Regions from separate parts of the Homo sapiens genome. Here region 2 is linked to region 1. The links come from fine-mapping of genetic effects on gene expression. A gene starts in region 1. The other region holds a variant in brackets. All regions are shown on one strand. Distances are from middle to middle. Region 1 holds the start of WNK1 (WNK lysine deficient protein kinase 1). Region 2 overlaps WNK1 (WNK lysine deficient protein kinase 1).

Evidence for each region. PIP is the estimated chance that this variant, and not a neighbour inherited with it, causes the effect. A credible set is the group of variants that fine-mapping cannot tell apart.
Region 2: its variant is the best candidate, but not a certain one, in a credible set for the expression of WNK1 in whole blood (TOPMed, PIP 0.76).

The regions. Positions count from the first base shown.
Region 1 is chr12:750,586-754,976 of GRCh38, forward strand. It overlaps WNK1 (WNK lysine deficient protein kinase 1), which reads left to right and starts at 1,994. Exons shown (of 28, transcript NM_018979.4): 1 at 1,994-3,739. The coding sequence starts at 2,981. RefSeq lists enhancers at 1,050-1,149, 1,200-1,249, 2,007-2,725, 2,726-3,444 and silencers at 1,890-2,039, 2,120-2,499, 2,510-2,889.
Region 2 is chr12:855,381-859,771 of GRCh38, forward strand. It overlaps WNK1 (WNK lysine deficient protein kinase 1), which reads left to right. Exons shown (of 28, transcript NM_018979.4): 5 at 1,781-1,869; 6 at 3,865-4,084. Among named protein-coding and RNA genes, the nearest start is that of RAD52, 92 kb to the right of the region's middle. The variant G/A (reference allele first, on the strand shown) is at 2,626.

The DNA.
Region 1 (4,391 bases):
TTTCAGGGCTCAGTAAACAGGAACAGGCAATAATAAAATCCTTTAACAACCACTCACACAAAAATATCCTAATTTTTTCATGGTGCCAAAAGGGAACATTGTGATTTACTGATCTTCTTTTAACTTGCCAATTTGTAATTAGCTGCCTTATGTTTAAAATCAGACTATTTTTCCTAGTGAAGCAACAATTGGGTAAGTTTTATTTTACTCAAAAGTACAATAAAAATGTATTTTACAGCCATTTCTTCCCTTGCTTACATTAGGTTTACGGTTAGAAAAACACTCTTAATTCCATTTGCCATAATGAGATTATTTACCATTACCAATAGCAAACGAATGAAAGATACATTTTCTAAAGCAATGGAACACTAATATTTTAGTACTCTAGTTGTCCCTGCTGAATCGGCATTTTAAAATGTTCGTAACCTGTCAGCTTCATGAAACCTAACGATCATTGGTTTAAAACATTTTTGTAAACTTGAAAGTGTAGCTTGTGATAAACAACAAAAAAAGAAAGAAAAGAAAAATAGGGTTAAGTATTTTACGTATCAGATGAATTAACATGAACTGCAGGGCAAGACTTCTGTAGGTGGAGCTCATCCGATAACTGTGCTAAGGAACCTCCTGCCGAGTTCCTTGCTAGCTGCTCGCTCGCAGCGTGGTCCTCGGCCCCGACGCGCGCTTTCGAGCTTGTTCCGCAGCGGGCGCTGAAGAGAGGCGGCCGCGTCCGGACGCTCTGATGCGGTTGCGTACGTTTTCAGCGCTTCCCGCTCTCCACCGGTTGGACTGAGGCTTTTAAACTGCAGTCTGCTCCCGAGTCCGGCTTCCTACTCGGTCTGGTGCCCCCTGGTGCTCGTCCCCTCCACATCTTGAGTAGTTGCGAAGAGCACAGGGGTCCAGGCAGACAAGGATGCTTTCAAGAAAAACATTCCATGGCGGCAAGCCGCATGGATCCACATTTCCCGGGCCCAGAGCCTTTGTAGACATTGCATGTGGACATTCAGGAGCTCTAGAGAAAGAGGGGGTGTTGTTTCACGAAGCCACCAGCAGAAGAAAGGTGGAAAATAAGTTTCAACCAACTACAAAGGCAGAAGTCAGCCCAGCCCCCCAAGTGTGGTCAAAGACCCATAGATCCGTAGACCTTATCTTTTCTTGAATCCACCGCTCCCCCAACCCCCCTTTTATTATTTTTCAGACAAAGCAAAGATAGAGTTCACTAGGATCCCCGATTTCAGTAAGGCAGCCCTTTTTTGAGAGCCAGAATATCCGTCTCGGCCGGGAGCTGAGAATGTGGCCTTAATTGATGAGGGGAGGAGGATGGAAGGTAATCCTCCGTGTCTCCTCCTCCAATCCGTTTAATCAATATTAATTTCATGCACAATCTTCACAAAGTTTCTTTTCCCCTCCTCCGACTCAGAGCTCAGGCTCCGGTTATCCTGCTTTGCCCTTCCCTTCCACCCTCACAGCCCTGCAGTCACTCAACACTACTGAGGCTCTCTCCATTAAAGATGAACAACAGATCATTTTTCATTGCATGGCAACCCTAAGAGCTCTCTAGCTTAGCAGAGCATGATGGGAGTCTTTCCATCCCCCCCCCCACCCCCCGCCCGCTCGTTCCTCTTCTTTTTTTTTTTTTTTTCCTTCCTTTCCTTCTTCCACAATTAATCCCTAAATAATGATTTTCCTAAGCTCGCGCGGACTTCGGGATGGGGTTGAGCGACCCGTGATGACGCTCCCATCAGCCTTTCAGAAGGGACGGTTTCCAAAGAAAACTACAACTCCCACGAGGCATTAGGCTACAGCAACCGCAAGGCATCACGGAAGTCGTAGGCACTTTTCTTCTAGGTCCCGTTCATCCCCGCCAACCCGTAAACTATAAGTCCCAGGGTGCCTCGGGGCTAGCACGCCTGCGCAAAAGCCCCGGAGCGAGTTGGGGGGTGGGGCTGCTCCGGGCGGCGGGGGGCGGGATCCGAGCGGGCTGTGTGGAGGCTTCAGACTCCCGGCGCCATTTAGCGCGGAGAGTTTCCCGGGTGGACGCGGCTCCTCTCTCGGCCACTCCGCACCCCCATCTTCGGTGACAGAAGGCGCCTGGTGGGGGTGGCTGCTCTTTTCTCTCCCTGTTCCCCCTCACCCAGTCCTCTAGGTCTCCTCTCCTCTTGCCTCAGAGAAGCAGCGGAGCTCGGGCCCCGCGGTGAGCGGCCCTCCCCTCCCCGCCGTTCCCTCCTCCGTCAGCCCCCGGCACCGGCCCGGGAGGAGACGGGTTTGCCAGGCCTGGGGCGGGCGGGGAGGCCTCGGGGAAGGGGGGGCCCGCTCCTCAGGCGCCGAGGCTCCGAGGCTCCGGCCCTTCGCCTCTGGGCGATGGGCGACCTGTGAGGCCGGTCCCCATCGCTGGGGGCGCGTGTGGGAGGAGGCGGCCGCCCGAGTGACCGGGAGCCGGGCCGCGGCCTTCCCTCGCCCGCCTCGGCCCCTCCCACTCCTCTGCCCCGGGGCCGCCACCGCCCGGGCGTCGGACCTGGTCCCGTGCTCGCGGTGCCGCCGCCCTCTGGGCCTAGCCCGCCCAGCTCGGCGAGCGGCGGCAGTGGGAGCCGCGTCCGCCGCATCCGCCTCGACTCGGTGCCGGCCCCTGGCCCTCCCCTCATGACTGCGGCGCCTCTGCTGCCACCGCCCGCCCGGCCGCCGCTCGCCGCAGGATGGATGCGGACCGTGCGGCGCTAACCCCCGTGGCTCAGCTCCCGAATCGCCCGCCTTCGAGCCCTCCTCGTGAGCCGCAGCAGCCTCGGTGCCAGCCCCCGCCGCAGCTGGGCCCAGCGGTCCGCCTGTCCCTCGTTGCGGCTTGTCGGTGCTGAGTGAGGCGTCGTCCGGGTCGGCGCGAACCCGCCCGGCCGCGGTTCCCTGCAGACCTCTGCGCGGGCGGCTCGGCCCTTCACGCCCTTTTCGTTCACGAATCCGAGCCCGCTCGCCTCTCTCCAGCGAACCGACCATGTCTGGCGGCGCCGCAGAGAAGCAGAGCAGCACTCCCGGTTCCCTGTTCCTCTCGCCGCCGGCTCCTGCCCCCAAGAATGGCTCCAGCTCCGATTCCTCCGTGGGGGAGAAACTGGGAGCCGCGGCCGCCGACGCTGTGACCGGCAGGACCGAGGAGTACAGGCGCCGCCGCCACACTATGGACAAGGACAGCCGTGGGGCGGCCGCGACCACTACCACCACTGAGCACCGCTTCTTCCGCCGGAGCGTCATCTGTGACTCCAATGCCACTGCACTGGAGCTTCCCGGCCTTCCTCTTTCCCTGCCCCAGCCCAGCATCCCCGCGGCTGTCCCGCAGAGTGCTCCACCGGAGCCCCACCGGGAAGAGACCGTGACCGCCACCGCCACTTCCCAGGTAGCCCAGCAGCCTCCAGCCGCTGCCGCCCCTGGGGAACAGGCCGTCGCGGGCCCTGCCCCCTCGACTGTCCCCAGCAGTACCAGCAAAGACCGCCCAGTGTCCCAGCCTAGCCTTGTGGGGAGCAAAGAGGAGCCGCCGCCGGCGAGAAGTGGCAGCGGCGGCGGCAGCGCCAAGGAGCCACAGGAGGAACGGAGCCAGCAGCAGGATGATATCGAAGAGCTGGAGACCAAGGCCGTGGGAATGTCTAACGATGGCCGCTTTCTCAAGTTTGACATCGAAATCGGCAGAGGCTCCTTTAAGACGGTCTACAAAGGTCTGGACACTGAAACCACCGTGGAAGTCGCCTGGTGTGAACTGCAGGTAAAGCCCCACCTACTTTATTTGACGGTCCTTTGGATCCCAAATTTGGCTCGGCGAAGCCAGTTGATCGAGTTCACCCTTCACTTGGCATTCTCTGTTGGACTCCGAGTGGGACGGGGAGGCCAACTTTTGAAAGGGGCTGAAATTAGGAGAATGTGGAGCATGTGCCTAGGTGTTGGGATAGGATAAGAATTATTGGTAGCCAGAGGGATTTGCTACCGGGCAGCGGTGGTGAAGGTCATCTTAGTACAAACGAATTGTCTCCTGGTTTAGAGTCTGGCAGGAAACTTGGAATGAGTGGGGAAGTTGAAAGTACAGATGCTTCTTCTTCTGTGCATTTCAATCTCATCAAAGGCTCTGCAGTGATGAGCTGCGTCTGGGTGTAGAAGCGTGTTTTCATTCCTGAGATCAGGCTGTTCTTTTTAAATGAGAACAACCTTGTACCTTTGGATGTATTTTGCTTGATGGTTGCACAGGCATTTAGTATAAAATAATTATTAAAAAAAGACTCTTCTCTGCCCCTTTTGGATGTTTGATGTTGTTCTACCTAATGATGCTTAAGCCTTACAGTAGCAGCATTGCTCTGACGTTCATTAAACTAATGTCTTTCAGCCCATTCACTATACAGCGAATAGTATAGGAGCCCATGCAA
Region 2 (4,391 bases), 100 kb after region 1:
CAAATTGGGTCTTCGGAATAATACAATGAGTAATTGAGCATTATCCAGCTTTGGATATAACTCTTGTACTTAAAAGACTTTAGAGCTTATCATTTTATGTATTTCATTTATTTCATTTAGATCTATGAGAGATTACATGCATTTCTGTGATTTATTAGTCACTAATTTTGTTTTACCATATCTGTCATTGACACTATAGATAATCAGAATTTATGTATATTTAATAACTTAACTTTTCTGACCACCCCACCCCAACTCCATTCCCTTTGTTTTATGTGTCTGTTGACTTACAGTGCCACTTGAACAGCATATCAGTGCTTCAACTCTTGATCCGTGTGGTGACTTAGATGAGGTCAGAATAGATGAGATCTTTTTCTCTTTCACCCCACCTCTTAGACAGTAGCATTTTGTTCTTACATCTTATGTATATTTTCCACACATTGCTGTTTTGTTTTTGTTTTTGTTTTTGTTTTTTTTAAAGATGGAGTCTTGCTCTGTCACCAGGCTGGAGTGCAGTGGCTTGATCTCAGCTCACTGCAACCTCTGCCTCCCGGGTTCAAGAGATTCTCCTGCCTCAGCCTCCCGAGTAGCTGGGACTACAGGCATGCGCCACCACGCCCATCTAATTTTTGTATTTTTAGTAGAGACGGGGTTTCACCATGTTGGCCAGGATGGTCTCGATCTCTTGACCTCGTGATCTGCCCACCTCAGCCTCCCCAAAGTGCTGGGATTACAGGTGTGAGCCACGGCGCCCAACCTGAAAATTTATTTTTAAAGAATTTATTGGCTGGGTATGGTGGCTCACGCCTGTAATCCCGGCACTTTGGGAGGCCGAGGAGGGCGGATCACCTGAGGTCAGGTGTTCGAGACCAGCCTGGCCAACATGGAGAAACCCCCATCCCATCTGTACTAAAAATACAAAAATTAGCTGGGCATGGTGGCGTATACCTGTATTCCCGGCTACTCAGGAGGCTGAGGCAGGAGAATCACGTGAACCCAGGAGGCAGAGGTTGTAGTGAGCCAAGGTCACACCACTGCACTCCATACTGGGCAACAGAGCAAGACTCCATCTCGAGGGAAAAAAAAAAATAAGAAAGAATTTATTTATACTTTATAAAGATTTTAAACTATTACTGTGATGACTACTATGTAGTATCACATGTGATAGTGGTAATGAGTTTTCTTCTGAGATTAATTGCAGAGCTTGTCTTTCGTATGGGTCCAATATATTACTTTTCATTGTGTTTTATTTGTGCAGGACAATTTGCTCTTCAGTTATCATACCAAAACAATATAAATCCTCAACTCCTTTGAGTTTGTTAAAGATTACTATAATAATATAATCCCTGCCAAACTAAGCATGTGAATTCATGCCCACACATGGGTTCAGTGTTCAAAATAGTTAAATGCTGTATTGATTTATGTGTTTAGGGAACAAGGTTGAACAAAAGATCTTCTAACCAATTAGAACATTTAGCTTTCTTTTTTAGGCAATAAATTCCTTTACTTGAAACACAGCAGAAGATATTAACATCTGCCTAAATTTTTTCATTGTCACATATGGAAGTAAGTGACCCTGCTGTCACTGTTCCATGTTTTCTTGTGAAGAGCTAAGTTGTCACTACCCAACTGTGACACTGCATGGACCAACTCCTGCAGGCGAGTCAGAAAAAAAGCCGGGATAGTAAGAAAGGAACCTAAAAGAACCTTAATTGGAAATTTAAAAAACAAAGTTCAAAGGCCCTGCTTTTATTAATGTATTTCTGTTTATGGTTTTCAGGGGGTGAAGCCAGCCAGTTTTGACAAAGTAGCAATTCCTGAAGTGAAGGAAATTATTGAAGGATGCATACGACAAAACAAAGATGAAAGGTAAGTTGCCTCTTTTGATCTGGGTGATACTTGAACAAAACCTAAAAAGTAATGTGCTTTGAGTACAACACACATTCTACGGTGTATTTAATATTTGTGATTGGTTTCTCTATTTGTGCCTGTAACATTTTTAAAGGTAGGGTTTTGTTCATTGTGGTTATTCAGATTTGATATACTGGAACACTGTAAAAATATGGTTTGGTAGAGTTTCAGTAAACCAGAACCACCATAAACATAGCTACATTCCATGAGAACTGCTTACTTAAAACATCAGCATGATTTATAAAACTCAAAAAAGAGTTTAATATCTAACACAGGAAATCTTTTCTTAGTCCTTTACCATTGAATTCTAAGTGGTGAAATAAAACTTTGGCTCTTTAAAGTCAGCTCAGCTATTACAGGTCTGATTTGCCGTCCTTACGCCAGAATTGAAGAAGAGCAAAACATCAAAATTCCTTGAGTAAAAAGAGAAGACTTGGCCCAGGGGTTGGAAGGAGATGTGGCTTAGTCATTTGTACTAACAGAGGGCTTCTCTTAGAGGAGTGGCAAGTATCTGATCTGCCATGTAGCTGATTCATCACCCGTCAGGCATGGCGAAGGTCCAGTGTCTGTTTCTGAAAAACAGTCTATCTTTGCCACCCCCTTCCATCCTCCAAAAAAGAAAAAGGAGACCAGCTAGTACAAATACAAATTGCAAATTGAGCATAATCTACCACTTGAAGAATGAGAGCTATCAGATGTATCAACCGAATTAAA[G/A]AATTCCATCTTTTCACCTCTCCAGTCTCGTTCTTTTTATAACATCGTTATTTAGAAGAGCTTAACTTCATGGTTTTTAAGCCTTTATTAAGTAAAAATTTAGTTTGAGTTTTCATTTTTATATATGCTGGGTACTTAAATCTCTTTAAGAACTTTTTACTATAAACAAAGGAATGTTTGTTTCAACTCTTTTTTTTTTTTTTGGACACAGTCTTGTCACGTCGCCTAGGCTGGAGTACAGTGGCATAGTCTCAGCTTACTGCAACCTCTGCCTTCCAGGTTCAAGCAATTCTCCTGTCTCAGCCTCCTGAGTAGCTGGGACTACAGACGCACATCACCGCACCTGGCTAATTTTTGTATTTTTAGTAGAGACAGGGTTTCACCATATTGGTCAGGCGGGTTGCAGACTCCTGACCTGAGGTGAACCACCCACCTTGGCCTCCCAAAGTACTGGGATTACAGGTGTGAGCCACTGGGCCCAGCCTGTTTCAACTCTTGTTGGAGCAGTTTATTAGATGATTGGCATATTGAAACCATTTTATCTTAAGATTGTTTCACAATCAGACTTCTGCTTGCCCAGTACACAAATTATTGAACAAGGAATTAAGAGAACTTACTGGTGTAAATAAAGCTTGCTGTGGTAGAAAGTACCAAACTAGAAACAAAAATATTTATTTTCTAGTTTCTATTTCAGCATTTACAGCTTTTATAACTGTGAGCAAGATTCTCAACCTTTCTGGGCCTCCATTTCCTAATAATCAGGAGATGATATCAAATTGGGTGTTGGTCAGACAAGATCATAAATATGAAGATTTGTGTTACTTATAAAATGCTATATAAATGATCATGTGGTATTTTGAAGCTTTAATAGAGCCAATTGTGTTAGCCCACCATTACTAGTATACTATTACTAATAAGATCATTGGATTTAAAAATTATGTTACAATTGTGTTAGCTCGCCATTACTAGTATACTATTACTAATGAGATCATTGGATTTAAAAATTATCACTGTCAGCTCTTATTCATGAATGAGATTGTTATGATGTTTTATAACTTCAGAGTAAACCTCTGTAGGCACCCTTCAAATTCAGCAATGTAAAAATGAGTTATACTTTCCCCTGTATTTTTTCCCATTTTTTTCTTCTGCGAATAACAATAATTGGCCACATTTGAAAATTATTTTTTCAAACTAATGGTGTTTTATTTTTGTTCCTTTTCTTTTCCCTCTGTTTGGAAGATATTCCATCAAAGACCTTTTGAACCATGCCTTCTTCCAAGAGGAAACAGGAGTACGGGTAGAATTAGCAGAAGAAGATGATGGAGAAAAAATAGCCATAAAATTATGGCTACGTATTGAAGATATTAAGAAATTAAAGGGAAAATACAAAGATAATGAAGCTATTGAGTTTTCTTTTGATTTAGAGAGAGATGTCCCAGAAGATGTTGCACAAGAAATGGTAAATTGACATTAGCCATTTTAAAATTGATTTAGACTTATATATATCAATACTATCATTAAGCAAAAAAGCAGTTGATGAAGTGCCGTGTGTGGCATATCCCATTGACATAAAATTGTGATGGCCCTAAAAGTTATCTTTGATTAGTGGGATTTTCGTGTGTGTGTGTTTTTTTTTTTTTTAAACTTCTTTGTATTGCTTTTATAATGGGTGTTAGATTTTATAGTCCTTTTTAAAAGTAAATTTTTTTTTTTTTTGATGGAGAGAGAGACAGGGTCTTGCTCTGTCACCAGGCTGGAGTGCAGTG